4 linked regions of the Homo sapiens genome follow. The protein of the gene in region 4 interacts with the protein of the main gene of each other region in a biochemical or structural test. Each region holds a gene or a part of one and is shown on either strand. Other genes may lie near its edges. The genes, in order: CNKSR2, PPP1R9B, CTNND2 and LRRC7.

Region 1 (7,000 bases), on a different chromosome or scaffold from region 4:
GCTTGCTTCTAACCCACCCTTCACATTTATTTGGTTTGACCATGTTTTCATTCTGGTCTTTCATACTTTTATTTTGTAGGTCTTGATGACTGTTTGCAGCAGTATATTAAGAACTTTGAGAGGGAGAAGATCAGTGGGGACCAGCTGCTGCGCATTACACATCAGGAGCTAGAAGATCTGGGGGTCAGCCGCATTGGCCATCAGGAACTGATCTTGGAAGCAGTTGACCTTCTGTGTGCATTGGTAAGGACATAAAACTGGTGAAGAGGGAAACTTCTCTTTTTCTTCTTTTGTTGCTTTTCCCTTTTTTCTTCTCCTCTTTTGATAATCGAAATGCAAATAGAAGAAAAAAACTCTGATTCTCAACCAGCTGGACCTGATATTTTCTTCCTTCCTTAAATTTATTATATTAGTGCCAAATAACAGTTCCCTGTTTGTAACATCTTTTATAACAGTAAGACTTGGGTATATCAGAACCTTAAGTCCAGAGTGTATGTCTCATAAGCAGGGCTCTTCATAGATGAACCACTCATGTGCTAGGCTCTCACACTGCCAGTTGAGAAAGGAAAGAATATTGATTGACAGTGTTACATACATACAGTCTAGACGTTTGAAGTTTGACCCATGAACAAGGCTCTGCCGACCTAAACCTACTTAAAAGGATGGCATCAGAAATAGATGTCTAGACCACTTCTAAGTTTGAACCATGTAGCTGTGGTGAATCCTTTCTGATGCTGAGCTTTAATCCCTGTACAGTTCTGGGTTTAAGCACCAGGTTTAAGTCATGTCATTTGGATAGTTCATTATGTGATTGAGCTCTTCTGGAAGTTAATGCGGAAAATAAATTTAAACACCATTTTTTTTTCTGTTTATTCAGCAATTCCTTAGTCGCAGTCCCCAAAGAGGTCAAATGTTAAACTTCCTTCTTACCCCTTCCTAATGTAGTGGATATACATCAACAAGTCAGAAGTACAGATGTATTTCAGTTTATGCAACAGATGCTTTCTGGGGAATATAAAGCAAATTTCTGGGTAGTGAATTCTAATTTTCTTCTACATACCATTATGAAATCAGGAGGTGAGATTCCTTATCAACAAGCTGAGTTGACTAGTCCAGGAAGTTGTGCTATTGGGACTATATCTTTACCTCCTTCCCCTCTATCCCCAACTACTCTTTGAATTTCCGTTTACCCTGCTAAGTCTTGTCTCTCTGATCTTTACTGGCCTTTCTACATTTTCCTTATGTCTACTGTATTCATTTCTTTTTCAACAATTACATATTCATGCTCAAACAGTGCTATCACGGGGAATGCAAAGATGAAAAAGACAGTCTGTACTCCTGAAACATATACAGTCCATTAAGAAAGACAATAGCCATCAGAAGACAACATAGATTTAAAGAAAATTCCAGGGGAGTGTAGAAGGAAATGAACACTTCTGAGGGATTCAGGAAGTGTAGGTAAGATATGCATTTGGTCTTGCAGGATGATGAGATGTTTGCCAGACAAAAAGTTGGAGAAAAGTTATCTAGGCAGAAGAAATATCATGTGTAAAGACAGAATTGTGAAAGAATATGGAATATTCAGAGAAAATTGAGAATTTTCATTTAGCTTGTGCAGAATGGGAAGTGATGGGAAAAAAGGGAACTTAACACCTTGTATTACAATTCTTTGCTTAGGTTCTTTTATCCTTTAATTCATGTTGGGCTCCTCAAAGGAAGACATCTTTGTTTAGTTCATATTTTTTATTCAGCTTTCTGCCCAGTGCTTAGCTCATAAAAGATGCTAAATTAATGTTATCTTACTGAATTAAACTCTCTGTCTTTCTTCAGAGAAGCATAATTTTTCTCTTACCTGCATAGCCTTTGACTTTGAAGTTTCTGTTCCTCATATAAAGGAAGACATAGAAAAATTAGCAGATTCCTTTTGTTTCTTTAAGCTATACTATATTTTCGTCTACCTTGTCTTGAAGTTATTCCTTATGTGAATAAATGTTTATGGCAGCTGATGAGAATCAAAGGTTTATTTAGTCACTTGTTTATTCATGCAACATATATTTATTAAGCATCAGATATATTGTTTGCATCATGTTATTCTAGAAAGAAGTAAGCTGTTCATGATTTGGAGGTGTAATAATATTTCAAGCTATTAAGCTATAATTTAGTATGCTTTAATAGAGAGCAAAGATATTAACTGAAAGAGTAAAAATGTAAATAAAAATATATATATAGCTTAACGTATGGTCCTTAATTTGTGTTCTGACAATACACTTTTTATTAGGAACTGTAAATAAATCATTTATGACAGGATAAGAACAGTTTTCATTTCATTTTTCATGTACTTATAATTTCAGGCATTTTGCATGAAAGATTTGATGTTTGCAATTGCTGGGATTTGTTTCTTTGCAACATAATTGCTTGGTTCATTCATCTTAAAATAATTTATTTTCCAAAAAAATTCATTAAAGCAAGCCTTTTAGGACTCACTCATATTTATAAAGCAATGTATTATAAAGCTAAAAAGGTGCTACACGATGCATTCAAATTAAGAACTCTGAATAAAATGGCATTGACATTGTAAAATCTGTTGTTGCCAATATTAAGTATTTCTAGTTAAGTGGTTAGTGAAAATTTGCCACTAGTGAGGATATAGCTGACCTTATTTTTCTAAAATGTTAAATACATTTCTTTATTTCTTTCAAATGCTTTTGCATGCATATGATTGAAAGAGAAGGCTGATATGAACTTAGCATAAATTCATTAAGACTTAAATGGCTGTGTTGAATCAGTTCTAAGTCATTACTGGTTCTGGCACATGGTAATGGCCAAGTATATGAACAAATAAGTAACATATATGACAAACACAGCAGCTAAGTACATTTCATGTATAAGTTTTTGTTTTCTTGAGGTAGTCCTTTTTATACTAATAGTAATACCAAGTTTTGCTATGCATATCCAATAAAAAGCAAATCTGTGGTGAATAAACCTGCATTTTTAAAAAGTTGAGGCAGTGCCCTCCGTACCCCTGGCCTAACACAAAAGGTGCTTGATATACTTGTCAGTTCTTTAAATGGTAGGTAAGGGTGTGTGATTTACTGGTGACTTACCATGTCACAACAAACCATCCACTTACATGAAAGAAATAGCCAGAAGGTATCTGTATTGGTAGTAATTGAGAATTGTAATTATAAAAATTAACCTGAGGCTGGGCATGGTGGCATGCCTGTAATTCCAGCACTTTGGGAGCCTGAGGAGGGCAGATCACTTGAGCCTAGGAGTTCAAGACCAGCCTGGGCAATGTAGCAAGACCACATCTCTACAAAAAATTTAAAAATTAGCCAGGTGTGCTGGCATACACCTGTAGTACCAGGTACTTAGAAGGCTGAGGTGGAAGGATCGCTTGAACCCAGGAAGTCCAGGCTGCAGTGAGCTGTGATAATGCCACTGCACTCCATCCTGGGTGACAGAACGAGACCCTGTATCAAAAAAATAAAATAAAATAAATTTTAAAAATTAAAAAGTTAACTTGAGAGATCAATTAATCTCTTTTGTTAAAATAGTAGCACATAAATCTGGTTACATACAGATGAGCTTCTTACCTATTATACTCTTCTAAATTTTTAAAACATGTTTTTAGATTATCAGTGTAGTTATGTTCATTAACTAGAGCAAGTTTTAACAATTTCCTTCCCCATCCTCTGCTACATATCTTTTAAAGATTCTTTTTTCCTCTGCATTTCTCTGTCCTCTACATTTTTCACCTCTATTCTGCGTAATATATTTTTAGGAGGTTTCCAAGTTAGAACCTCTGAGAGTATCCTTCCAGGTTTTGTCCGGATGATTATTATATTCCCTAATTCTTGAGTCATATGAAAAATAATAATTTTAGTTTCTTAAATTTTGAAGACTCTGGAATATTTTTACTTTGCCTTTGGATTTTTACTTATAAGAAGATTAATATTATTTTACCTTTCCTAATAAATCATTTGAGATGCTAGTGTTATATAGAGATAAACAATTTAAAATAATCTTTTATGGAGGCTAATAGCTACAGAGTGAAATATCAGTTACCAAGTTGAGTAGGTTTCTCGCTAATAAATTGTTATAATTTGAACTTCTCTAAGAGATTACTATAATTTGTTGGCAAACAAATGTTTTCTTATTAAACTCATTTATACACAAAAATGAAAAATACAATCATTTTTTACTTTAGAAAAATGCTTTAACACAGGGAAAACTTCTGAAAATACTTTGCTTTTCAGTATTTTCATTTACAATTACATTTACAGAAGAAATATCATTTACAGTTAGTTTGTATAGTTATAAATTGTTCTTATCTAGTCATTAGAGAGCATCTTTTATAAACATAAGAGGATTTCTTTCATACTGTAGTGACCGGCTGGACAAACTCTCCCACATTTCACAAATAATCCATTCTTAAATGCAATAGAATTTGAATAGAATGTTGTTTTATTTGCCCAAGCAAATCTTTTAACATGAGAGAAGAATATTACAGTTCAAATTAAGCAGTGAATATTTAACATATTAATACTATGTTATTTTAGAAAACAAATTTATAACTTTAGAAGAAAGTGTTCTTTTAATAAATATGTAAATTCCCAGCAAAAGACAAGCAGACTTTTATCACGATTAAATCTGTAGTGGTAACATACATAACTTGGTATTTAATGTTTAGGCATCAAAACCTTCCTCTCCCCTCATTTTGTCTCCACTAAGTTTTCTCTTGTCTTAAATTGTCATAGGAAAAAAAGACACCTAAATGTTATATACAAAGTAGGTACCCAGTGATTGTTGACTTAATAACATAGCTTAATTCATTGTATGGCTTACTTTCCTTTTTCACCCTTCATCTTCCACTTTGACTTAATTATTGTTACCATGTTTCTGAGAATAGGAGTAGAATATTGGTGCTAAGGAATGTGGTAGACATATCCGCTCACAGATGGCCTGGTGACTTGTAGTTCCATTCTGAACTCTGTCTAGTCCAAGTACAGAGTTTTTTAAGCAAACTGTTAAAAAAGAAATCTTCCCATACCTCAGTTTCCCCAACTGTGAAAAGGTAAGTCAAACTTAGCCTCCCAGGCCCAAGCAAATTCTTACATTCTTTGGGTTTTGCCATTTTAAGTAAGGTGGTAATAACTTTAACTTTACACACAACAGTAATGTGCATGCTGCTAAGTGTTTTAATCAAGGTTATCCTTGGATAATATTAACCAGCCTTTTTAAGGGGTGTTTTACAACACACAATTAGCTGCTTTACATTTTAATTGTAACTTTTGAAAACTTTCCCCAAAGTTTGAAGGGATCCTACAATCTTTTTCTATTTGAAGATAGTAAAAAGGCTTATTACACTTATTCATATAACCCGTTTCTGCTATAAAGTATAATAGATAAGATATTTAGGATGAATTAACAAATATTAGTTGAAATGTGAGAACAAAGAAAAGAAGAAAACAAATACACTTACCAAAAAGTCACTGTGATTGCTTTTGGTGTGCTTCATATTTAGTTGTGAGCTAATACAGCCAGGACAAAAACAAAAATAATTTTAGTTTCATAATTTGTATTACAAAAAGGAGAAAGTATATTAGTTCCCCTGAGGAAGCAGAGTTTTTCCTGATACCATATTATAAAAGAAACTTCTTATACATCATTATGTAGAGTACGTATTTTTTTATCTGATTTATTTACCTGATTTATTTCTTGCTTTTTCATTTTATTATTGTTGGTTGTGTTTATTTTCCTAACTTTGGGGAAGCAGAATTATCCCTAGTACCTACATTCCTGACCATGTGTATTGTTAATAGAATATCTACTCAAAAATAATTGTTGATAATAATTAATTTCACAAGTAAATAAACTTAGGTTTTGGTTTTAAAAAACAAATTTATTATTTCTTACAATCTTGCTTTCTTGGGTAGCATAGTTCTAAGATACAATGCCCTTATCTTTCCATGTTCATATTAGTACTTAACACATTTTATTATAATTTCTTTATATGACATCTTCCCAAATAGTCACTTAACTGTGGGCTCCGCTAGGTCAGGAATCCTATCTTATTCATTTGTAACTCGAATGCTACCCCATTGCCTGTGCATAATAAAGTATTCAGTAAATATTTTCATGAATGAATAAAACTGACTTTAAATATATTCTCTCTCTTTTTTATAATTCAGAATTATGGCTTGGAAACAGAAAATCTAAAAACCCTTTCTCACAAGTTGAATGCATCTGCCAAAAATCTGCAGAATTTTATAACAGGAAGGAGAAGGAGTGGCCATTATGATGGGAGGACCAGCCGAAAATTGCCAAACGACTTTCTGACCTCAGTTGTGGATCTGATTGGAGCAGCCAAGAGTCTGCTTGCCTGGTTGGACAGGTAAAGTCTTCCGCATGTTTCATAAGTATCCTCTCCTCAGACACCAGTTTGAATATAACATTATTTTGCATTTTGTTGTGAAAGGATTGGACAGGCAGAGGAGTACCAAGTAATAAATGTCTAATGATGATTTACCACAATATAGGGGTATTAAATAGATATTAGTCTTTTATAAAATTTGATGTCCAACTAAGTAGCCAATCAATAATTAGTCTGACAACTGTAAAATACCTTGCTGCTTTATAAGCAAAATCATTATTTGGCTGTCATAATAAAATTTATAAATTTTTGTTTATTATAATACTGCTTTGTGTCCTGATGTTCTTTATTCATATTAATTGGTTGTACTTAAGGAAATGACCATTGGGATTCTATAAACTGTTTTAAATAGGTAATTAGACACTGACACCTTCATAGCATGCCTTGTATGTCTCCTTGGCCTCGCTTCATTCATTCTCTGTTATTAATTACATTGTACTATTTTGGATATCATAAACACACTTTTAGACTTTTTTAAGTTTAGTTGACTTTCATTTGTTTTGGAACACATAAAATAGTATAAAAGTCTTGTAATATGAAATGAAAATGTTAGATTTAAATTAT
Region 2 (7,710 bases), on a different chromosome or scaffold from region 4:
CTGCTTCAGAGTCCCAAGAAACACTACAGTCCCCCATTCCCTTCAGAACCCCACTGCCTTCAGGAGGGGAAAGGGGTTGGGAGAGGACCCCGCAGGTCCCAGCCCAGGGGAGAGGCTGGCCTGAGAGCCACTCACTTTTAACCTTTCAGGCCTCTTGCTGGGGTGGGAGGTGGGAGAGGGGCAGAGGCTGACATTCTGGGCGAGTGAGAGGAAAGTTGGGAAGCTTCAGAGTCCAGGAGTAGTTATGGAAACGACAAGCAAACAGATGGTGCTTTGGCTAGGGAAGGGTAAAGGCAGGGCAGGGTCCAGGCCAAGGAGAGTCCAGGGACCTGGACACTTCCATGGGGCGGACCTGGGGCCGGGTGCAGCTGAGCCTGGGGCGGTGAGGAAGAACCCTGCAGGCTGAATGTGCTAGCCAAGAGTGGAGGGTGGTGGGAAGTGGGGGGAGGGGTGGCCTGGGGTTTTTGATTCCCCCCAGGGGATGTTCCCTCCCCATCAGGGCTGTTCTGAGGATCTCAAAGCTCTGGCACAACCCACAAACCAACCACCAATAGTGGCCGTGGGGATGAGACCCCCAAAAGGGGCAGCTCCCATCCCTCTTTCAGGGCTCCCAGAGAATGTGGCAAGAACACTTGGGGCCTGCCAAGGCCATGGGAGTCTGTCCTATTGAGCAGCCAAGAGTAAAGGCATGCCCACTACTGCCAGGCACCCAGGGGGATCCCAGCCCCACCTCCTCCTCCTCCATGCCTGCAGAAGGCCTCTCCCCATCAAGGACCACACAAAGTGCCCCTCCCTGTGCAAGGAGGACCGGGCAGCTGGCCTGCAGGGACCCCCAGGGAACACGGCGCCAGCCAGTCACATGGCCACAGACCAGCTCACCCTCACGATCTGCTTCCCTCTTTCACTTCTGCAAAGTTGGGGTGGGGGTACAAACAGAATAGAGGAAGGGCTGCCTGCGGTCCCCTGCAGCTTCGTTTTGAGAAGTTCCTGGCTTTCCCCTTTCTCACCTCATCCAGCTCCCATACAGGGGGAAAGCACCCCGGCCCCCTCTCTACCCAGTGAAGGGCAAATGTCTCTCCTGAAGACACACACACCCCTTCACACTACCCAACCCCAGCCTCTGGCAGCCTCTGGAGGAAGGAATGTCCGGGTGAGGAAGGGAAAGCAGGTGTCCCAGGACCCGCGTGGGGCAGGGCGGGTTCCGCGGAGCGGCGGGGCGGGGCAGCAGGCGGAGGAACCTGAGGGCAGGTCGGGGCAGGCCACCCCCCTCGCACACCTGAAAATCCCTCTCTGACAAACAGCTGGAACTCCCCCACGCCCCCCTGAGGGTGGGAACTTCTGGGAAGGGGGCTGGGTGGCAGGGGCTGACTCAGCCTGCCAAACCCGGCTGGCTGGCTGGCGAGCGGGGGCGGCCGCGTGCACGTGGCAGGGGCGGCGCGGGGGCAGGGCGGGGGGGCTCACTTACTTGGATGGGCGCCGTGCTGAAATGGATCTTCCGGCTCGGGGCTGGGTCCTCCTCCTCCGACAGCCCCGGGATCTCCACGCACCCCGACTCGGGCTCGTAGGGGGGCTCCCCATCCTCCTCGTCGTCTTCGTCGTCCTCCTCCAGGGCACTGCCCGCAGAGTCCTCCCCGAGCCCACTGTAGGCGCTCACGTCCACCAAGTCCGCCTCCGAGAAGTCCTCCTTCTTGGATTCATCTACCTCCTCAGGGGCCACGTCCGGGGCCCGGCCATTGCCCACCCCCCTCTCTGGCGGCGCTACCGCCGCCGCCTCCTTCTCCGGGGCCGCTTGGGCCTTTGGCTCCTCGGGCGCGGGGCTGGCTGCAGTTGCCACGGTGCTGCCATTCTCCAGGGCCGCGTGGACCGTAACCTCGGCCTGGATCACCTCCCCGGGCGCCGACTCGGCCTCCGACTCCCCGCTCTCCTCCACCTCCACCGGCTTAATCTTGCGCACCTCCCGGGGCTTGGGGGGCGGCCGGGCAGGGGCCACTCGGTGCTGCGGGGGCTGCTGCCCTGCGGGGCATCGCTCTTTCTCGGCCGGGGCATCCCCCGACGGGGCGGGCGGCGGCGGCGGCGGGGGCTGGAACACCCGGGACCGCTTGCTGACCAGCTTCGAGTTGACCTGGGGAACCCCTGCGGCCCTGGGGAGCCCGGGCCCGCGGTGGAGGCCGGTCCTCGAGTCGGCCTTCTCGAAGACGGCGCTGAGCTGGCTGACCGTGGGGGACACGGCGTCAGCGTCCAGCTTGTCCAGCGCCTCGGTGCTGCCGTTGAAGCGCACCACGACGTCCAGCTTCCGGTCCTGCAGGCCGGCGCGCTCCTGCCTCAGCAGCCGCCGCGCCGCGGCCTCCTTGTCGCCGCCTGCGGCCGCTGGGGCGCTCCGTTCGAACAGCTTCCGCGTCTCCTGCAGCCGGGACGGCGGGTGCGGCGGCGGCGCAGGCTGCGCGGAGGGCGCGGGCTTGGAGTCGAAGCGGCTCACGCGCTCCGACACGCTGGTGCCCAGCTTCAGCAGGGCGCTGTGGTCCACGTTCTCGTTCAGGCTGCTGGCCCGCGGCAGCGACAGGCGCACGCCGCGCTCGGACGCCCGTGGGGCCTCGGCCAGGCCCGCGCCGCCGCCCGCCTCGCCCGAGGGCCCCGCCGTCGTGCCCATCTGCAGGAACATACTTTTGATGCGGTGGACGTTGGAGCCATATTTCTTGTGGTGGGCCCCCTTGGGTGCCTCGTCGGGCCCGGGCGCGTCGGGCGGCTTCAGCGCCTGGATGCCCGCCTCGTAGGCGCTGCGGTGCGGGGAGGCGCTCCGGAGGGGACCCCCGGGCCCCCGTGGCTCCGTCTTCATCATGGTGGGGGGAGCCGGGTTCGCATGCCCCTGCTCCCCGCTCCCCCGCTTCAACAGGCGGCTGGCCAAGTCGGGACCACCGCCCCCTCCCCCCGATAAAAGAAACCCCGAAGGCCTTTTTTAGGGTCCCCCCAAAACCAAGCTGCCAAAAACAGTTAATCCCGCTTTAAAAAAAAAAATGAAAAAAAAAAAATCTCCAAGCGCCCTGTGTGTGGGTCGCCTCCCCCAATCAAGCTGCCGAAGACAGCCAGCCCCGCTTCAAAAGCCCGAGCGGCCTGGTACGGTCGCCCCCACCCAAATTAGCAAAGCGGCGTCTGGGGCCGGTGGGAGCGCGCGCCCTGCCCGCGAAGCAGCCGCGGTGTCGCCGGCTCACATCGTCCGAGACGGTGTCAGCGGGGCTGGCAGCCCGGGCGTCCCCCAGTCCGGCCGGAGGCCTCGGCTCTCGGGGGGCCCGGCACCCCAACGCCCATGGCTGCTCCGCCGGCCCGGGCCGCTCCGCCGCCGCGCCTCCCTCCCTCCCTCCCTCCCCCCCGTGCCCCGAGCCTCGGTCTTTCTCTGGCTTTGCCCGAGCGGCGGCTGCCGGAGACCGAGCGGCTGCCCTTCTCGCAGCCGCCGCTGGGGGACTGGCACCTCTGGGTCCTAAAGGGATCGGATTTCCGGGGCCGGAGCCTGTGAGCCCTCCCCTTCCCCTCCACCCGAACGGATCCCCTCCCCTCCCCAGCCCTCGCGGAGAGCCTTCCGCTGCCCCCGGACGTTGGCCAGCACTCTTCAACCTGCTTCCATCACAACTTCTGACTGCGGTCACAACCCACAGAACCGCACCTCCATGAAATATTGGGGGGAGGCAGTACATCCACGATGGTCTCAGTGTGAGGGGAGGGGGTTTGTAGGGAGGGGCAGAGGTTCATTCTTCAGTGTCCTCGGAGCTAGCTCTTCGGTGTGCTTCAAGCCTTTAGCATCAGAATCGCTGGGCACTTGGTAAAAATGCAGATTTCTGGGATCTCTCTCGAACCTTGTGAAGGAGAATCTCCGAGGCTGAACCCAGGAATCTGCATTTTAACACTTCACTACAGGCAATCTTTGGCCCCCTTGGAGGTGTGAAACCTTGGTCCAGCGCTGGTGACCTTTCGATGGTGGGGGAGGGGTGGTGAAGAAAGGAGGTGAACCCCGTCATCCAAGTAGCAGGGGATCACCAAAACTGCCGAAGTCTGGAAAGGATGTCCTGTCGCCTGTCTGCTGTGCACCCGTCTTCAGGCCCCTACCCTGGCACTCCTGCCTCTCAAACCGGAAGGAAGGGTTTGGGAGCAGGAATTCGAGAGGCCTGGGGCCAAAGTTTCGCCAGTGAGAGCTCTAACTTGGGTCTCTGATTTAAAGGATCCTGGCCACTGTGTTCCGGTTGGGGTGGGGGGGTGGGGAGGGTGACAGTGACTTACACATCCCCTGTCCTGGCAACCCAGAAAGCTGTTTGATGCCCTCTGCACCCCCCGCATACACAGCTAGGGTGCTGGCGCTGCCTGGGCCCTGGGTGTGAGAGTCCGCCCTCTGGACAGGTCCAGGTGAGCTGGTTCATTCCACACATCCCAGAAACTGGTGAACACAATGGGCCCTAGGACCCAGAGAACAACTCAGGCACAAAGCCTCCCCCCACTCCCAGCTGCTTCCTGCATCTCAGGCCTTTCTGCGGCCTCTGCCTCCTCCCCCGCCCTCTTCCCCTCCATCCTCTTCCTCCTTTTCCTAATCTCCCACTCTCTCCCCCCTGGCCTGGAAGGGCTGGCAAAGGGAGCCCTCCTACCACTCCACTGCAGGGGTGTGTGTGGGTTTTGTGGGATATTAACGCGTTACCATGTGCAAAAGAGCTTAGAGTACAGCGTGGGGGATGGGGTGTGGGGAAGCCGCCTGGGAACCCTGGATATTGGGATCGGGAGGGGCCAGGAACCGCAGGACTGATCCTGAGGCTGGTGCTAAGGAAGAGGGAAGATCTAGGTTGTGAGCTAGAGCCGGAAGTGAACCCAGACCTCACACTTTCCAAATGCCACCTGCATCTTTGCCCAGTTGCCCAGGAAACTTACCCCTCCCCAGTTTTGCACTTTGGGATGGTGCAGGGTGAAGAAGTCTGTCTCCTAACCCTTCTTAGAAGGCCTCTGTCAGGAGCAAGCTTTGGGACTTAGATTTCCAAACTCAAGATTGGGTCTTGAAAACCCCTCCCCACAGGCCCCCCAACCCCAATATAGAAGTCCGGAGAAGACAGAAACCTCACCCAGTTGGGGTTTGGAAGTTTGTACAATGTACTCAGAAGCTCTTGTGTGGATTGGAGGAGGGCGCAGGCCCCTGTGTTCTGCCCAGAATCTCCCACACCCTTGGTGGTAGATCATCTTAACTGGTCCCAGCCCAAGGGGTCTGTGCCCACGCGTCTGGCCAGGTGGGGAAGCCCCCAGTTTCTGAGGGTGGGAGAAGGAGCTGAGAACCAGCTACCAGGCCCAGAGACCCTCGGACTCCCAGCATTTCCGGTAGCAGCTTAGAGCAAACTGGAATTACAGGGGTGCTCTTGGGTCTCCCTTGTCCAAAGGATTATGAATCTCCGGACAAACCCCTTTAACAGACCCTTCTAGGGGGTTTGGGCTTCAAGAGGGTGGAGCTAGCCAGAGCTTGGGGGACTGAGGCTAATCAGTGGGATTATTATTTCATGGGCTCCTGGTTAGCAGAGCAACACCCTGGCCAGAATTCCCAAAGACGCTTTTATGGAGCGGTAAGTGCTTCACCATCACTTGTTCTCTGGTGTCAGGCACCAAGCCGGCTGGCCTGTGAGATGGGTGAAGAATGGGGTCTCATTCCCTCCATCCCTTCTCTGCCTGTCTGGAGCAGTAATCGCACCTGATAGGAACAAGGAGGGTTTGGGAGGGTTACCATCCAAACTGAAGGCTTTAAATAGAATTTTCATTCATTGGGCTGTCATCTTCACCTACATCCTCCAGTGAGGAAGCACTCCAGGATAATTTAACCACCCTTTCTCTTTCCTTTGTCTTCATGGAAGAGACTTTGATGGCCAAGTTGCCCAGTGGTCTTTGGATGGAAGTTCCTTCCTTACCTTTGCCTTGGCATAGAGTGGTTGACCTAGGAGCCAGGCTGCTAGGGTTCAAATCTTGGCTTCACTGCTTACTGGCTGTGTGACCTTGGACAAGTCACTTATCCTCCTCTGTGCCCTGGGAGGATGAAAGAAGGCCCAGAAAGGACGAGAGTGGCTCGGACACAGAAGATAGGGTGTGGGGGAGGAGACGCCTTTCCCAGCCTGTGCTAAAAAGGCCAGAGGCTGCGATAGGCAGAGATAATTCACCCCCAACTCTCCTCCTGGTAACCGCCCCCCTGCCACAGCTTTCCCACACCCCCCCAAATCTGCTTAGGGCCCTTGGGAAGATGCTCTGTTAGGACTCTTCCCCAAGGCTTGCTAGTTTTAAACACCAGGTGTAACTGCAAAGATAGTGATGAAGGCAGGGAGAGGCCTGACGAGCGATAAGTCCCGAGCCCTCAGCGCCCTGGGCGCAGGCCCGGGCTGGGTGCCAAGGCTGGCTTCTCTTTCCAGCCCTGGGGCCTTGAGACTCAGCTTCTAAAAGCGGTTTTTCCTTGGCCACGGTCATCTAAGCAGAGGCTGGCCCAGACCCTGCACTTGGATCCTTTTGTGGTGAGCCAGTGGTCCCCACCCAGTTGCTCTCCTTCAAGAGTTGACCTCTGCCAGGGATTTGGGCTGGTTATAGGATGCTGGAAAGGTATGCTGGAAAGGTGTGTGTACACCTCAAATCCAGGATGTCAGTGTTGGAGGGGCCTTTAGTGGCCCTTGGCTGACCTCTTCACAGGGAGAATGACGAAAGCTGAGAAGTGACATACCTAGTTTTAAAGGAAACAGACCAGGCTAGGGTTCATGAGGCCTGAATTGAGTCCTAGCTGCACTCATTTGCTGGATGACCGTGGGCTAGTCGTGTCCCCTCCCAAAGCCTGTTTCCTCAAAAAGCTTAGCTTGAGTGTCTGAGTGTTTCCTGAGCATAGATAACCCTAGGTGTCCCTCACTTTTGTGCATGCAGCACAGGCCTTGAAGCCAGGCCATCTCTGTTAGAATCTCCAACCTCCCACTCCCCAGCTAAGGGGCTTCAACAAATTCCTTCATCTATAAGATGAAGATAATATACCAACTTCATAGAGTTTTTGTGAGGAATAAATGGGTCCTCAATGCATAAGGCACTAAAAGGGGGCTCAGAGTGTTGGCTGTTACTGATTGCAGGGTATCCAAGCACATGTGGGGGTGTGTGCCTGCATGCACATGTGGGCAGGTGTGGCTGAGAATGAAACTCGGTGTTTGCATCTCTCTGTGTGTCTTCACAGGACTTTGGGGCTCTCATTTTCTTTAAGGTTCAATATGTGAAATTCTGAAATATAAACACCCCTTGCTTACAGCTTCTCCAAATCTTTGGGGGTCATTCTTGGGATGACCTCTCTTCTCTACTTCCCAAAGGGTTTTTCACTCCTGCCTGTGGGTGCCTCAAGCCCCTCATTGTCCCTGCAGGGAGAGGGGTCCCTTAGGGTCCTCTCACAGCTAGGAGACTGCCTTGCTGCTGGTTCCCTCTGCTGTACCCAGTTTCTTTCTATCACTCTCCACACTTGCTCCAGTGGCTCTTGGAAAGTTCAGATACATCTTGGAGACTAGGGAGGGAGACTTGGTAGGAGGAGTCAGGGTGTGTGTGTGTGTTGGGGGGCGGGGGAAGGGGTTGGACAGAGGAAAGATTTCTCCAAATCATCAGTTGCTTTAAAAGAAAGCCTATATTTAGCTGGGCTTAGAGGGCCTGTAAATATGTATTTTGCAAGGCAGACAGCCCGTAGCTGTGGGAGCT
Region 3 (7,600 bases), on a different chromosome or scaffold from region 4:
TCTTACATGATTTATAATTTATTGTCTGCTGCTTGGCAGAGTTTTTCTTAAACTCTTTCTTGTTATATTTTCTTTTAATTCATGGTCCTTTGAGAGTTTTTTGTGTGGGTAGTCAAATTGTTCTCCTTACCTACTCTGTTGTTTTCTTAACAAAAAGACTTCTTTAGATTTCAATATTATTTCCTGATCTCTGACACTTTAATCATTGTATTGAATACATTAATAGCAAATGATTTTGCATAGAAAACTATTTCTTTCCTGAAAACCATTTTCAGCAAGATTAAATGTTGATACTTAGTTTTCTGAATGGAAAAAAATGCACATCTATGAAAAATGCCAGATGTACTTAGTTTTCTTTTTTCTTTTTTTTTTTTTTTTTTTGCCCTTGATTTTCTGGCTAGCTTATCACAACTTGTAGAAAATGAAATTTTGTTTACCTCTGTACATTTGTTCATCCAAGAGCAAGTTTATGACTTGCCTGTTTTAAACCCCTTTCAGCATAATATAAGGCACATTATGCATAAATTTTAAAATGTGGATTTTAATTACACATGCTGGTAATACTTTGGAGAAACGATAAATCCTCAAGGACTTGCATAAGGACATAAAGCGGATTTTCTGATTGTGCAGTTAATGTTTATTAGCCTAATCTGATTATTTTGAGACTTAACACATCAGGACAACCTTCGTTATTTCAAAATATTGTCCCTCTGGGAATATATGCACTTTTTGTTTATAAAGTTTCTCTTAAATATTTTTGTCATTTTTGTCATGTCACGGAACCTAATTTCCTAAATTTTTGTAATTCTAAGATGAAGTCTTGAAAGTTCACTGGGAAAGAAGAGCCCTGAACTCTTAAGTCAATCCTCGGTATTAGAGTGTATTCCTCCCATTCACTTTGCAGATTTTCATCATTTCGACACAATTTCCTTACCTCTTTTAATAATTATTTTCTCAGCATGACATAATGTCCTTTGTGTCTGATTTGGTATATGTCCCCTAATGTAAAAGAGGATAAAATAAGCTCTATCATTGTTCACTAAGAAATGGTTAGGAAGTCAGAGATGTATAATTGATAATTAGAACCTAATTCCCATAGAGCACCCATGTCATAAATGGTCCTATCTAGCCACTGGCTGTATTTTGGATATGAAGTCTGTTCTACAGCACCAGAAAGCAAGTGGGCTGTCTGCTGTTGATCATGACTAGCAGTCTAAAGCAGTTAATAACTGGTCATATTCTACTGAAATGAAAGATGCTATTTTCATTGTATCTATCAACCAAACCTTAGATGTCAAATATATTTTGAGAACCAGATAAAAATAATGACATGAAAGGATCTAAAAAGAATCCAAGAGGGAAACAAAAAATTGAAATTCAGTTTCAAAATAGTCAAACTGATTTTAGTAACTAGTGTAAAATCTTCTCAAAACAATTTAGACACATTGAGAAGATGCAAATACTTTCAGAAAAGCTAAGTCAGCTCCTTATTTTGTCTGCCTTGCAGTTGGGTTGGTTTTGGCCTTATTCTCCCTTCACCAAATGTGTTTGTTTCTGTGACAGCTTCACTTGAAAAAGAGGCATATAAAAATCTTTCGGGAGTTACTTTACAAAAACTAGAGCAGTCATGGATTGAATGTTCTGGTGCTAATTATGGAGATGTGAACCCCACCTCTTCTCACCTCCACCCCCATGCATACACTCCCTCTCATTTCTTCTTATTTTCTTTGATTCAAGAAAATTAACTACATTACTAATTACATTACTGAATTCATTTTACATCTTTAATAAAGTTAATATAACATTACCGGAACACATTCTGAATCTTCTCAACTTGAAAATGAAGAATTAACTTCCCATGCCTCCTTAGAAAGTATTCTCTATATTTCTTCTTATGCACAAAGTTTATATTGCAGCTGAACACACCTTCTGTTGGATGTAGGTAAGCGATATACACACAACAGATGCATTCCCCCCATACCTGAAAGGTTTGTCTCTTAGGCATGCTAATTATCATTTGACTGGATAACATTGAATGTATTGGTTCAAATATGATGGATTAATTTTTTTTATTCTTTTGAACCCCCTATTTTTTATGTGTGTAACTTCCCCTGCCCCTGCCTAGACCTGGTTAACCATTTCTGTGAGCAGGTCCTCAATTTTTTACTTTGTCCCTACTTTCCTGTCGTAGCCCCATCTTCCCCTGGTGTCGACTCCGTCCCCTTGCAGCGCACAGGCAGCCAGCACGGCCCACAGAATGCCGCCGCGGCCACCTTCCAGAGGGCCAGCTATGCCGCCGGCCCAGCCTCCAATTACGCGGACCCCTACCGACAGCTGCAGTATTGTCCCTCTGTTGAGTCTCCATACAGCAAATCCGGCCCTGCTCTCCCGCCTGAAGGCACCTTGGCCAGGTCCCCGTCCATTGATAGCATTCAGAAAGATCCCAGGTGGGTAAAAACCTTTTTCTTTCCCTATGATGTCTAAAGAGGTTTTGTAACCTGGTACTGTAATTTATTTCACGTCATGTTGCATTTATGTCACTGACTATTAAAGGGTTGGCTTTTCTTGGGTTTTCTTTTGTTTGACTTGGAATGTGTGTGCTTGCAATGGATCCCTAGTATCTTTGGTGGTTCATCACCAAAAACAGAGATGATCTTTTGATCAGAGTATCTATATGTGCTTGATGTTTAGCTACTTGATGAGATGTAAACAGCCGTCTTTAATACAGGGGAAACTGGGGACTGGAGGCTATGTCATTTGACTTCAGATATCATGGCCTACATATTTTATTGTCTCAGTGGAAGTATGCTTTGTCATCATGCGTATTTCTATTTATCAGATTGCAAAGGGGTACACCTTCCAAGCTATAGTAAAATTGAAAATTTAGAAATTTTACATGGCCTTCATTTCTCTATGTCTGAAAATAAACATTAGGATGAAGTTGTTTAAAGACTGATAAAAATGTGAGCATAATATATTAGAGAAATTGTTGTTATGGAGGTTTTTTTTTGTGGTTGTTGTTGCTGTTTTTTCTTTCTTTCTTTCTTTTTTCCATCAGTGGCAAGGGGTTTAGCAATGCTCTGCTTGTAAAGTTGGATTTGAGTCCCTGTAGAGTTAAAGGATGTTTTATTCATAGCCATTGGATTTATGCTGATAGAGTCCCATAAATATATATATCTGCATCTGTGAATACTGTTGATATGTCAGATTGCTGATATTTCTTTATGGCAGGGCAGGTGGCTTGACTCTGGTCTTGTACTTAAAATTCATCTCAAGGAATTTTCACTGATGGAGCACGCAAGTTCCTGTGTACTGTATTGAGGGGTTGGAATAGATTTTTTTGCAAAAAGAAATCACTTCTGCAAATATAAAAGGCAGAATGGGATCATTTTATGGTTTACGTTGAGATAGCTACTTTAGCACAATTCAAACCTGCTTGGAAGGTCCATGTTAAATATTGTATTTGGTATAACACCATTGAAAAAGTGAATTGTAATAAGTGCTTACTGTTATCTACCAGAAATCGGAAGCATTCTTTTGTTTACTATGTTCAGTGTACTGGTTATCTAGATTTTCAGTCTCAACAGCACTCTTTATAGTCTTGGTCCTGAAACCTGCCCCAGATCCTTAAGTATTCTTGGCATGTATGGCAAGCGTATTCATCAGAAAATACCTCAACATATTCCCTATTTTAAAATAATCTTTCTTGATATGCTACTGAAAATGTGTAGAAATAGCGTAATAGTGAACCCTTAAGAAATGCTAAAAGACAAAAATATGTGATTTGACATTGTTTATATTTAACATAGGAGGTTTAAATTGACAATAAACATTTTATCTCTGATGGAAATACTTTAAATTTTCATATTAGGAATTTAGCTTAATAAGAAACCAAATTATATTTCTCTAGCTGTAGCATAGCTTCTGTATTTAATACTGTGTATTAAATGCATTTTATTTTATTAAATGGCGTATCCTTTCCATTTTATGTTACTGTCATTTTTACAGCCTTTTTTCTTCTCTCAATATATTGACACAGCTCTTACCTTTTCAAGTTATGGATTATGTCACTTATATTTATTGAGTGCCTGCTATAAACCAAAAAAGAAAAACACCAATAAGAAGGGTTAGAATGAATAAGAGAATATTGACCACTAAGCTTTTGTATGCGTCAAATTTGTATGCAGATTAGTGCTATATGAATTATAAGTTCATCCTGAGCTCAGACCCACAGACCCCCCAAAAAAAAGAAAAGAAAAGAAAAAACAAATCTAGAACCAGAACTGGACTATTGTGGTTTATTATAAAAGGGATTCATTATCTGGCATCATGCAAAATGTATGGAGCATAAAGTGTAGTAATATAATACCTTTCTTGTCGGGTTTTCTTAAAATTAAGGAATGTCTCAACATGTTTTTTTTTTTTTTGAGACGGAGTCTCGTTTTGTCGCCCAGGCTGGAGTGCTGTGGCGCGATCTCCGCTCACTGCAAGCTCCGCCTTCCGGGTTCACACCATTCTCCTGCCTCAGCCTCCCGAGTAGCTGGGACTACAGGCGCCCGCCACCGCGCCCGGCTAATTTTTTGTATTTTTAGTAGAGACGGGGTTTCACCGTGGTCTCGATCTCCTGACCTCGTGATCCACCCGCCTCGGCCTCCCAAAGTGCTGGGATTACAGGCGTGAGCCACCGCGCCCGGCAACATGTTTTTATTTAATGGAGAGACGTGCCAAATTTAAACTTCAGGTCCAAAATATAGTAATTCTTTTAAGACAAGATTTTTGCATTTTCCCTTAAATATTATAATTTGATTCCTCATAGGTGAATATTACCAGAACTAATATGTTTAACTTCTAGGGCTCACACTTATTTATTTTGGCGTTATGGCTTATTATTTAAATCTTTTCAATGTTTTCAAGCTTTTGAAATATATTTACATATATTTAAGAGAATTTGTTAACATTTTATTTACTGCCAAACACCAGGCTATGTAAGCCTCTTTATCATTATAAACATATGTTTATAGCACATTACAATCTTCAAAGTAGGCTTACTTACATCTTTGATGTAATCCTCCTTTGTGAGCAGAAACTGATATCCCATATTTAATGCCTTAAATAAATGCAGAATCAGAATGTTAAATGACTTCTTGAAAATGCATTGGTGCCAGGTGAGTGTGCGGACCTACATCTACATTGTTAGCACATATTGAATCCATACTGCAGCACATGTTGGCACGAACATTTTTATTTCTTTACAAAAAAGAAAAAGGAAAAAGAAAGAGTATATTTATGATTTTTTTTCAGAGGATGAATGGCAGTACCAGTATCTGTGTAGGAGTTGGGAAGAATGAAGGAAATTGTCTAAGTAGTTCTGGCATCCCTGATCGATTGCTTATTGGATGTGTGGTCTTTGTTATATTTTTCATTTCCGGCATCTACCTTATTTTTCTTATTGTAGACCAGTATCTCTTCTCTGTTAGAGAGTTTTAGTATTATTCAGTGAGAAGTGTTTAAGCAAATACTGCATTTTGAAATAATAATTTGAAGTCATGGCAGTTCCACTTCATCATTAGACTTGAAACCAGAGAAGCCATATTGACTTTCTGTGACTCTAAGTCATAGGATACAAAAGGATTGGTTCTGAGGGGTTGGGATTTTCTTGTTGATGGTTGGCTCAGTCATTTGGATTGTGGCAAAGCTTTGGTCTTTTCTCTTTTGACTAGTCATCCTATATGCCAACAGAAAACCCACAGAAATGTCTTATCCAATTTTCTTTGTAAAGCCAGCAGTCACTGAGATCATTTTTAAACCTGTAAAATTCCCTTTACAGCCCCATTTGCTAAGAAGATTTTATTTGTAATTGTATGTTATTTTCCATAAAATGTGAATCTCTTAAGGATTGTTATCATAGCTAATATATTTGTAGGTACTACACCAGCTATTGAGTTCTATATACTGTTGTTTTTAAACATGAAAGTCAAATATAACTCTTAAATTATATGAAAGAAGTGTCAGTCATGTTGGTAGTGATAAGTCACAAAAGCATTCTCATTTTGAAAATTTGATGATGAAACAAATGGAAAAAAACACAGCAAGACTGATATACCCAGATATACTAAGGGTATTATAACTGTCTTGTCTATCAAATAATAAAAGTCATGGTTAAGATATATTACTGACATAATGTGTAAATTGTAGCAGTAATAGCAACTTTTAATCGTGTTTGATTAATCCCTTTTTGAGATGTTGTAATCCTTGGTGTACACTATCTCGAAAGCAGTTTTTCAAACATGCTTAAAGAATCTCACTTTTTATGAATGTGATTTGCAATAGAACACTATCTTCTATTTTGTTATTCATCATAACAGGAATACATACAATGGCACATTTTTAATGCTGATGCTGGGCCCAAATTATAGCAGCTGCACTTTCAGTCGGCTCTATCAAACTCACTCCATGGATTTGTTCCGTTTCAAACCGCAAAATTTGACTAAGAGTATGACAATATGCACTTTTAAGGAATTATGTATACATTTCCACTATATTTTGTGTGCTGTTTCGAAATAGTAACAACATTTATCTTATTGTTGGACACTTTATTGTTAAATCTCATTAATGAATATTACTTATAAATATTTTACTACTAGGTAAACCTTGGTAAAGAATGTTTTCCAAATGCTGCTTTTTCTTTTTTTAACTGTTCACGACGCATGTGCACATGTGGACACACACACACACACCCACGCGCATGCATATATAGTGAATTGAAAGCTCAGGAAACAAAATATACTATAAAAATGCTTTTATTTTTTGAGACAAGGTTTTGCCCTGTCACCCAGGCTGGAGTGCAGTGGTGTGATCCTAGCTCATTGCAGGCTCAAACTTCCAGGCTCAAATGATCCTCCCACCTCAGCCTCCCAAGTAGGTGGGACTACAGGCTGGCCACAAGCCTGGTTAAATTGTTTTTATTATTTTTTTTAGAGAAGGGGTCTTGCTGTGCTGCCCAGGCTGGTCTTGAACTCCCTGACTCAAGTGATCCTCCTGCCTTGGCCTCCCATAGGGTTGGAGTTGCAAGCATGAGCTACAGTGCCTGGCATAAAAATGCTTTTAAAAAGATGAAGACTTGAAGAATATTTTTTAAATATTAAAGTTTAAACAGTATTATGTAACTTGTTACCATGTAACTCAAATAACATGGCTGAAATGTTTGCAGTAAACCACATATCATATTTTTCAGGGTCCAATTCTCTCAGGTGATGAATCTCTGGGTAGTTTGCTTTTAACTTCAAATGCTCACTAATTATTTATTTAACTGAGGAAATATCCAAGGGGAGAAATACTGGATTCACAACTTAAAGACTTCTGGAGTTTGAAGAGTGCCGGAGGTCGTTTATCAGTTGAGCTAATAGCAATCCCAAAACCTTGCCATTCAGCCCCTGCTTGAATGCCTTGAGCAACAGGCCCCTCACCATCTCTTGAACCATTTTATTTTTCTTTGAGTAATCCAAGCCTTATGCACTAGTTTATATTGATACAGAAATCTGCATCTTTTGTAAGTTCCTTCACTGATCTTGTTTCTGACCTTTGAAATCGTTTGAGAATA
Region 4 (7,543 bases):
ATTGCTAATAAAGATAAATACTACATGTTCAGAATAAAAGTTACATTTTTCAAATATTGATTACAATGTTTATGTTTTCATTTTAAAAAAAACATGCCTTTTTGGCTGGGGGCAGTGGCTTACGCCTGTAATCCCAACACTTCGGGAGGCTGAGGCGGGCAGATCACTTGAGGTCAGGAGTTCAAGACCAGCCTGGCTAACATGGTGAAACCCCCGTCTCTACTAAAAATACAAAAAACAAAACCAAAAAAAACTATCCGGGCATGGTGCATGTGCCTGTAATCTCAGCATCTTGGGAGGCTGAGGCAGGAGAATCACTTGAACCCAGGAGGCAGAGGATGACAGAGTGCTGAGATCGCGCCACTCTGTACTCCAGCCTTGGGTAAGAGTGAAACTCCTCCATCTCAAAAAAATAAAAAATAAAAACAAAAACATGCCTTTTTCTTATTACATCTCTGTTGCTGACTACGAGGTCTGCTTTGATAGTAAACAAAAGACACTTTACAATAAGGTGACATTTTATTATTTATACAATAAGGAGACTTTTATGTTATTCAAAACACTTTTTTAAATACTGAAAAAGTTGAGTACACCAAAGCCGAAAAATGGCTCTGCTATACACTGCACAGCATTATTTTAGTCCCTGTATTTTGTATCTGTACAGAAAGCATCTTCAAAATGCATTCTAATCACATTGTACACCTTTACCAATTAGTGTCAGTACATAAAATAAAACTGGAGAATACAGCTTGCATTTGCAAATTAACTGACAGTAATTAATTTCACTGGTTCAGTAAATTTAAAATATAGATTCATAGGACTTCTTTGCACATAAAATGAAGCAGCTTTCAAGGTTGTTATGGTCTCATACTGCAAAAAAACCAGTAAGTACATTCACGATCTATGTTAATAAAGTAGTAAATATGTCTTCATTCAGTTTTATTTACATCAATATGTAGTTCAACTAAAAAGTACTTTTAATTGTGATATAGTAGTCTTTTTAACACATACAAAAATGACAATTTTTTATATATAATTTAAGCTCAAAATCACAATTATCTCAAAATATTAATTACAATACAGCCATTTCAGTTAAACATGTTGTGATTTGATTTTTTTTATAAAATGGTAAAATTGTATTATTAAAGTAAGCAATTTGTTTTGAATTGGCTAGAGTACACCCAAGTAGAAAACCTTAAATGTGAAGAGGTGTTTCCTGCCCCCTCCCACCCGAATTTGTATACAGCCACCTAGGCTAGCAAAGAGACAGAAAAGGCCCCAATTTATAAAGATTAAGCCTCTTTTGCTATACTGCTGTGGCTTGTTGGTTCTTCCATAAAAGCTTTACAAGGGTAGTGTCAATAAACTATGCAGTGAAATGCATGCATTAATATACAATATGTCTATGTAAAATGTCAATGTTTACTATTGCACATTAAAAGGTTCACAAAGACTGCAAAAGAAGTCATAAAGAAGCACTTTCTTTACCAGTCGAATATTGTAAATTTGAAAACGACTTGATAATATAATGGGATTTCTTTGAAATCAGATCCCAATTCAAGTTCTTTCTCTGGCTAAAGGAGCTCTGGTTACTTGGCCTTAAGATGTCACTGTTGTGCTGCACATATGGTAGTGAAGTCAGAGATCATTAAAAAAAAAAAAAAAGTCTAGAGACTCTTCATTTTACTAAAATAGCGACCCAAAGTTGTATCACTGCTTAGGAATTTTTCTTAAACTTACAGAAGAGTGAAATATTTCACTAACTGAATTATATGAGCTGAAATGAGAAAAAGAAAATTTATGTGTGTGTGTTTGGCATATGGGAAAATACAAATTCATATAGGTAGAAGTAGAACTTCTTTATAGAGTAGTAAAAGGATTATGCCCCAAAATAACTGAGGTCAAAAGTAATCAATTATGAAATCGTTTAGGAAAAAATAATTTTCATAGATACTTAGAAAACATCCAAAACATAATATCTAGTATCCTTTTACATATAATTCTTAACAAACCATCTGAAAACCTACCACTGTCTTCCTTCAGAATTGCTTATGTTAGTTTAATATTTCTTTTTTGAATAGAAAGACCCTAGTTCATGTTATGGTTTTCTTATATATAGCTGGTTGGGGGAGCCCTTGGGCAGTTATAAAGTGGAAAAAATAAAACTGTATTATTACTTTCAATAAGCAACAGTAATCTTGCAGTAGTTTCACTTTTTTCAAGGTCTTTTGTGGTGGTCTTTAAAATTTACAAACAGAATTTGGTAGATTTACTTCTAATTTTCCACTAGTAAAAAATTTCTTCTTCATATGAAGACAATGTCATTATCCTTAAGCTTCCTTTAGTCCCTACTGAGTACAAAGAGAAACTTGATTGGCTCTTCAAACAAAAACTATCTGTTTATCTGTCAATTACCTTTCTCTTCATTTCAAACAGAAAATAGGCTTGTGTTTTCAAGGATGAAAGTGTATTTGAGGATGTTAAAGAGAAATGCCCAAACATTATAAAGCCGAAGTATTAAGCATTCATTGCATTCCACTGACGCTAGGTGTCATCAAAGCTAAAACCAAATTTTCTAGAGTAAAACTTACATACAACAGTCCTTACTGACCTGAACCAGATGCCTTTTCCACATTCAAGCCAAATAAGAGTCCTCTGAGTGGAAAGACTACAAGTATTGAAAATAAAAATTATTTCAACAATATATTCTGAAAATTAATGACCTTTCTAGCAGATATGGGAGCTGCTTTATGTTGTCTGCCTGAGAGTTTCATCTTGCTTTTCCTATGGACCGTCCAAAAATATTACATAAGATTTCCTGACTAAATAAGAAATATTCTTTAGTAGAGGGTTGGGGAAGGGTAAGAGGAATGGAGAGATACAAAGAAATACAATGTGATTTCTTTTGTCCATTTGTCAAATGCTTTCGTTAAGCTATTAAAAAGGTCAATTGACCTGCATACCTGGGCATTATTTAACCTCATTATTTTAGCTGTGCAAAACAAATGTGCAAAGAAAAACACCTCCTATTTATGTGTGCCTATACATAGACACAAAACCTGAGTCACCATAAAAGTTTTCAATATAAGAAACCTTTTCTTAATATAGGAAAATAACCTTTAAAGAGCCAAAAATATCTTTGTACAATATAAGCAGCTAACTTTAAAACTTCAGTGTACTTAAGTATCACATATTTTATAAGATCCAGCAAAAAAGGGATCATTTACATTTGATAATTTTCTTAACTATAGCTGAGATAACCACATTTTAATTTCTAACATGTATTTTCATTCCCCTGAATTCATTGATTTTTTTTTTAAAGCACATTCAAATAAGTCCTGTTTAATTTCTGACAAACAGTTCCTGCTTGTTTCTAGATATTGAGGACATAGGAGATTTAGGATTGCTAGGCCTATAATTTAGTGCCAAGCCACAATGGAATTCCAAAGTTCAAAACAAAATATATCATTTTATTAAGAGAAACATTATTTGCAAAAGTATTTGTAGACAGAGTTGGGCCAAAGTCTGCATGAAGCTATTGTCTCATTTGCAGGCTCCCTTTCTACTGACTTAACTCTTAAAAACCCTTTCTTTCTCCATGCTCCATTTCCTTATTTTTCAGTAGGCTTCATACCCTTTTCGTACCTGAACCCTGAATTGTCCCAACTGAATGAAGCTCCCTTGCTCATTTGCAGCCACCAGTTAACAATGTCCTCTTATCTACATCTTTTGTTATCTCTTCCTCTTTATGAGCTTAGAACTCTGGGATGACTCCTTGGCCTCTCCTCCTGTGCCACTTAACTACTCATTAGAGGAAAATCTGCTTGAGTGTTCCATTGCCTTATTAGTCACTGATTTAAGGCTCAATTCAGGACATACTTATTCCCTGGGCTACACCTCAGTTGCGAACTGAGGAAAGTTGTTTATAGAAAAATGACTGAAAGTTGCTTCTCGATGCTGCTCCCAGTGGTCCTTGTCATTAATTATGCATTTATGTCAGTTAAGTCACTGACACTTAGGGAGAAGGGAAAGCCATCTGAACCAAAATATTCAGTCTTTGTGGCTGTGATTGGATAGGAGGGCCTTTGAATACTTGTATCAGTAAAGAGATACTGGGCAGGGCCCTTGAATGCTTTTTTTCTCAAGCCTGGTTTGGGAATAAGGTGGAAAATGCATGCAAGAGAGTAAAGGATTAGAGGCATTAGCCAAGGGAACTGTAGTCAATTCCTGACTTTTTATATTATACTTGCCTGAGGATCACCAGAAGGATTTTGTCTTGTGCAGAAGGCTAAAAGCAGAGTCATACTTTCTCTGCCAACAGACTTGTTGCCATGGGAACCAGTGCAGAAAAATGAAAATATGACAAGAAGCCAAGGATTAAATGTAGAAAATTGATAGGGAGTTGATTTCTACATGGCAATTTAAGCATTGAGGATTTAAAGAAACAGGATGTTCCTTATGTGGCCAGATCAATGAAAATGGACAAAATGACTTACCAGTAGCTGGTCCTAGGGGGCTGAGGTGTGGAAAATGGAAGGAGAAAGTAGTAAGCGTGCTGTAGTTTGGATAAGGGGAACTTTGTAAAATCTAATTCCACTCCTGATGAGGTTAAGCTTGCAGCCCAATGTTAAAATTAACTGTAGGATCAAATATACCCTTTGGAAAGGCATGCCCATGCTTAGCTTGATAAAAGCAGCCTGATGTAACAATTTTCTTTTCACCTTTCCAAAACCAGCACATACTACTCGACAAGATTATTGCACATCTAGTTTATTATTGCTTGATGTATCTTTTCAATTACTCCAACACACAAAAAAACGAAAAAACCCACCATTTGCAAATCTATGCCTCCCTTCCCCCAATAAGGCAGCTATTGTAAGTACCCTAGAATTAAGTTTCTCATTAAGGAAATAATTATTTTACTTCATGTGATACAAGTCCTCCCTGTGTACCCTTCTCTGTCATTCAGTACTTAATAATAAACTGATCAAACCAGACTGTAGGAGTCCAGGAAAACCTTTAACAAGGATTTGGAGTTTCAGCATAATCTGAGAAGGACCTACATGTTGTATTTTCAAAGGCTCTAAGGAGACTGTACCTGCCGTGTCTCCGAAGCTTTCCTGAAAACCTACAATTAATGTCTCATTCCTATGACTTCAGCTTTGGCCTATTTTGAAATGCAGTTGCTCTAAGGAGATGTAGGAAGGTCACCCTGTAAAGGATTTGATTTAACCCTTCCTGCAGAGCTAGTTTTCAAATAGTAATGGCACACTTCACCTGATGTCCTCTTCTTCCCTCACCCACAAAGGAAAAACTAAAAACATAACGTCCACCTGGGCAATGGGTAGGGCTAGAGGCCAGGAAGTAGGAGACAAGCCATTATAGCATAGTTGTCTTTAGGGTACATCTGAATCCAAATGGTCTGAATAAAATATGCTCTTTGTGCAGTGTTACGTACACTGGACAGATTTCACTAGACATGCTTGTTTTCTTTCTCACTTATGACTTCTGGATCTATTTGTTAGAGTTCATTACTGAAGCCTTTGACAATCTCAATGAGTTCTTGAAATGTCAAAAGCTCGTTAATTTCCTTTATCCCAAGAGTACTTAATTCTGAATCTGAATTCTGAAATCCAATAAAACGCCTGAATGTTCTATCACTTGCTGTTTGATAGTACATGCAGGACCCTAAACAGAGGTTTGAATACTGAGATACTGCTGACACAGAATTCCTTATATCAATATTCTAGTGACTTTTAGGATTGGAGACTTGTGGGCTTGGTTTTTGCAGTAGGAAGCATTAGAATAACCTGATGCAGGACTAATTGAAGCTACATAAAGCATTGCTTTTTCCTAAAGGCAGGTAGGCAGATCTCTTTCTCCGATAGGCAAATAAAACATAATAGGGTCTTCACGAGCAGCTATGCCTTTGAATTTAACATATGATAGAGACTGCTGCTTTTCATTTCTAATATGGTCTCTTTAAAATCAGGTAGCTGATGCCTGGAGGAAGACTAGCTGGTCAGGATTAAACTAAAAATGATTAGCTTTTTCTGTGACCTGGCACTGATCTTCTCACTGGTAGATCATACCTTGGACAAACGAGCTCCTCCACACAGAAAGGCCACCAGATACTACTGTATTTAATGGTTTTACTACATCTATGCATTCTTCTGGTAAGAATCTAAAATAGTTTAAAAAATCTCATAGGGTATTGAGAATTTAAATTTGGCTCCTTAAAAATTTTGAAACAATTTGATTAATCCTCTCAACTTTCTATGAGGTTGTACAAATGATTATTTGCTATATCATGTACCTTAAAGAGTTAATAGACATAACTTCTGTAGTTTTCCTTAGTTTATCATATAGCTCAGTCACAAAAGGACCAATATCCCTCATTTTAGAATATTTATTGCTTTCTACTACCACAAGTATTTGGAATTTTAAAAAAAGACTTTTAAGTAGAATAATGATGTCTGTGTAGTAGGCATTATGCTTTACAGAACTGATCTTTTTTAAAAGGTGGCTTCTCCATGTTGACAACTGAATATACAAAGATACAGAGCTTTTTTTTCAATACCTTTCAACCTGGATCTCCAGTAATATGCCCAAACTGGTACTTGAAGGTCAGGAGTCCTTTGATTAAGTATTTAAAGGCACAATCTCCATTTTCAAATGTAAGCATGCTGCACAATCCATCACATATTTTTAATCAATTCACATTTTCTAAGTTGATGCGCAATGACACTAAGTTTCTACAAGGAAAAACCAAACACTTCATCACAAAATGGCAGCTAATTTTCCAGACCATAACTGAATTCATACACTTTTTGAACTCAACTTTATTATACAGTCGCTGTTCTACATCTAGGCTAATCCTGAGTGAAAAATCTTTGATTTTAACCTCAAAGAGCAAGCAAAAACTCTGGGATTTTGTTGGAAATAAAGCCATATGGACTATTAATATTCTCTTGCTGGTGTAATGTAATCTCTAAAGAGATTCTTCCCTTAGAATAAGTTGTAAGGATTTAGATGGCTATACTTCTTAGTGCTTAGAGAGGCTGCTAGGGCAGCTGAAATTGTCAACATTGGAGAACTCTTAATTGAAGGCTCTGGCTGGATAGGCCATGTCAGCATTTCAGCTGTCTGTCTAAATGACATGCATGAGACTTGATCTATGTCTGCATAGTTCCAGGCATTCTTTAGTTTTTATACTTCCTAGAAAATTTTATCTCAGGGGCTGTTCAAGTTGCATTTCTTACTGAACTCTGGTGGGTCTATTAGGTACTTAAACACAAAGCAACCCCCAGTGGTGGAGTGTTTGCTAACAGTAAAGACTAATGTTTTCCTTGTATGTAGGTACATGATAAGTGTTAAAGATATGCAAGTCCACCAGATGTACGTACATTTTTCTTAGGTGTCTAAAACACAAAAGAATTATTTTAAAGCTTTCAAGGGTCACTAAAGGTTAACTTCTCTTCTTCCCTCAGATTGATCCCTTTAAGTGGAACAGTAAGCCTTTGTTATCAAGCCTTAAGATGAA

What was found.
Region 1: the proteins of LRRC7 (region 4) and CNKSR2 form a complex in vitro, tested with the Homo sapiens proteins (one study listed by BioGRID).
Region 2: the proteins of LRRC7 (region 4) and PPP1R9B form a complex in vitro, tested with the Homo sapiens proteins (one study listed by BioGRID).
Region 3: the proteins of LRRC7 (region 4) and CTNND2 form a complex in vitro, tested with the Homo sapiens proteins (one study listed by BioGRID).

The regions. Positions count from the first base shown.
Region 1 is NC_000023.11:21,426,418-21,433,417, forward strand, and holds part of CNKSR2 (connector enhancer of kinase suppressor of ras 2), read left to right. Parts: intron 1-79; coding exon 80-243; intron 244-6,194; coding exon 6,195-6,397; intron 6,398-7,000.
Region 2 is NC_000017.11:50,147,678-50,155,387, forward strand, and holds the start of PPP1R9B (neurabin-2), read right to left. Parts: upstream 3,001-7,710; 5' UTR 2,837-3,000; coding exon 1,466-2,836; intron 1,151-1,465; exon of another isoform or gene 1,058-1,150; intron 1-1,057. UniProt on the Homo sapiens protein: Seems to act as a scaffold protein in multiple signaling pathways. Modulates excitatory synaptic transmission and dendritic spine morphology. Binds to actin filaments (F-actin) and shows cross-linking activity. Binds along the sides of the F-actin.
Region 3 is NC_000005.10:11,341,219-11,348,818, reverse strand, and holds part of CTNND2 (catenin delta-2), read left to right. Parts: intron 1-2,191; coding exon 2,192-2,447; intron 2,448-7,600. UniProt on the Homo sapiens protein: Has a critical role in neuronal development, particularly in the formation and/or maintenance of dendritic spines and synapses. Involved in the regulation of Wnt signaling.
Region 4 is NC_000001.11:70,137,322-70,144,864, reverse strand, and holds the end of LRRC7 (leucine-rich repeat-containing protein 7), read right to left. Parts: 3' UTR 501-7,543; downstream 1-500.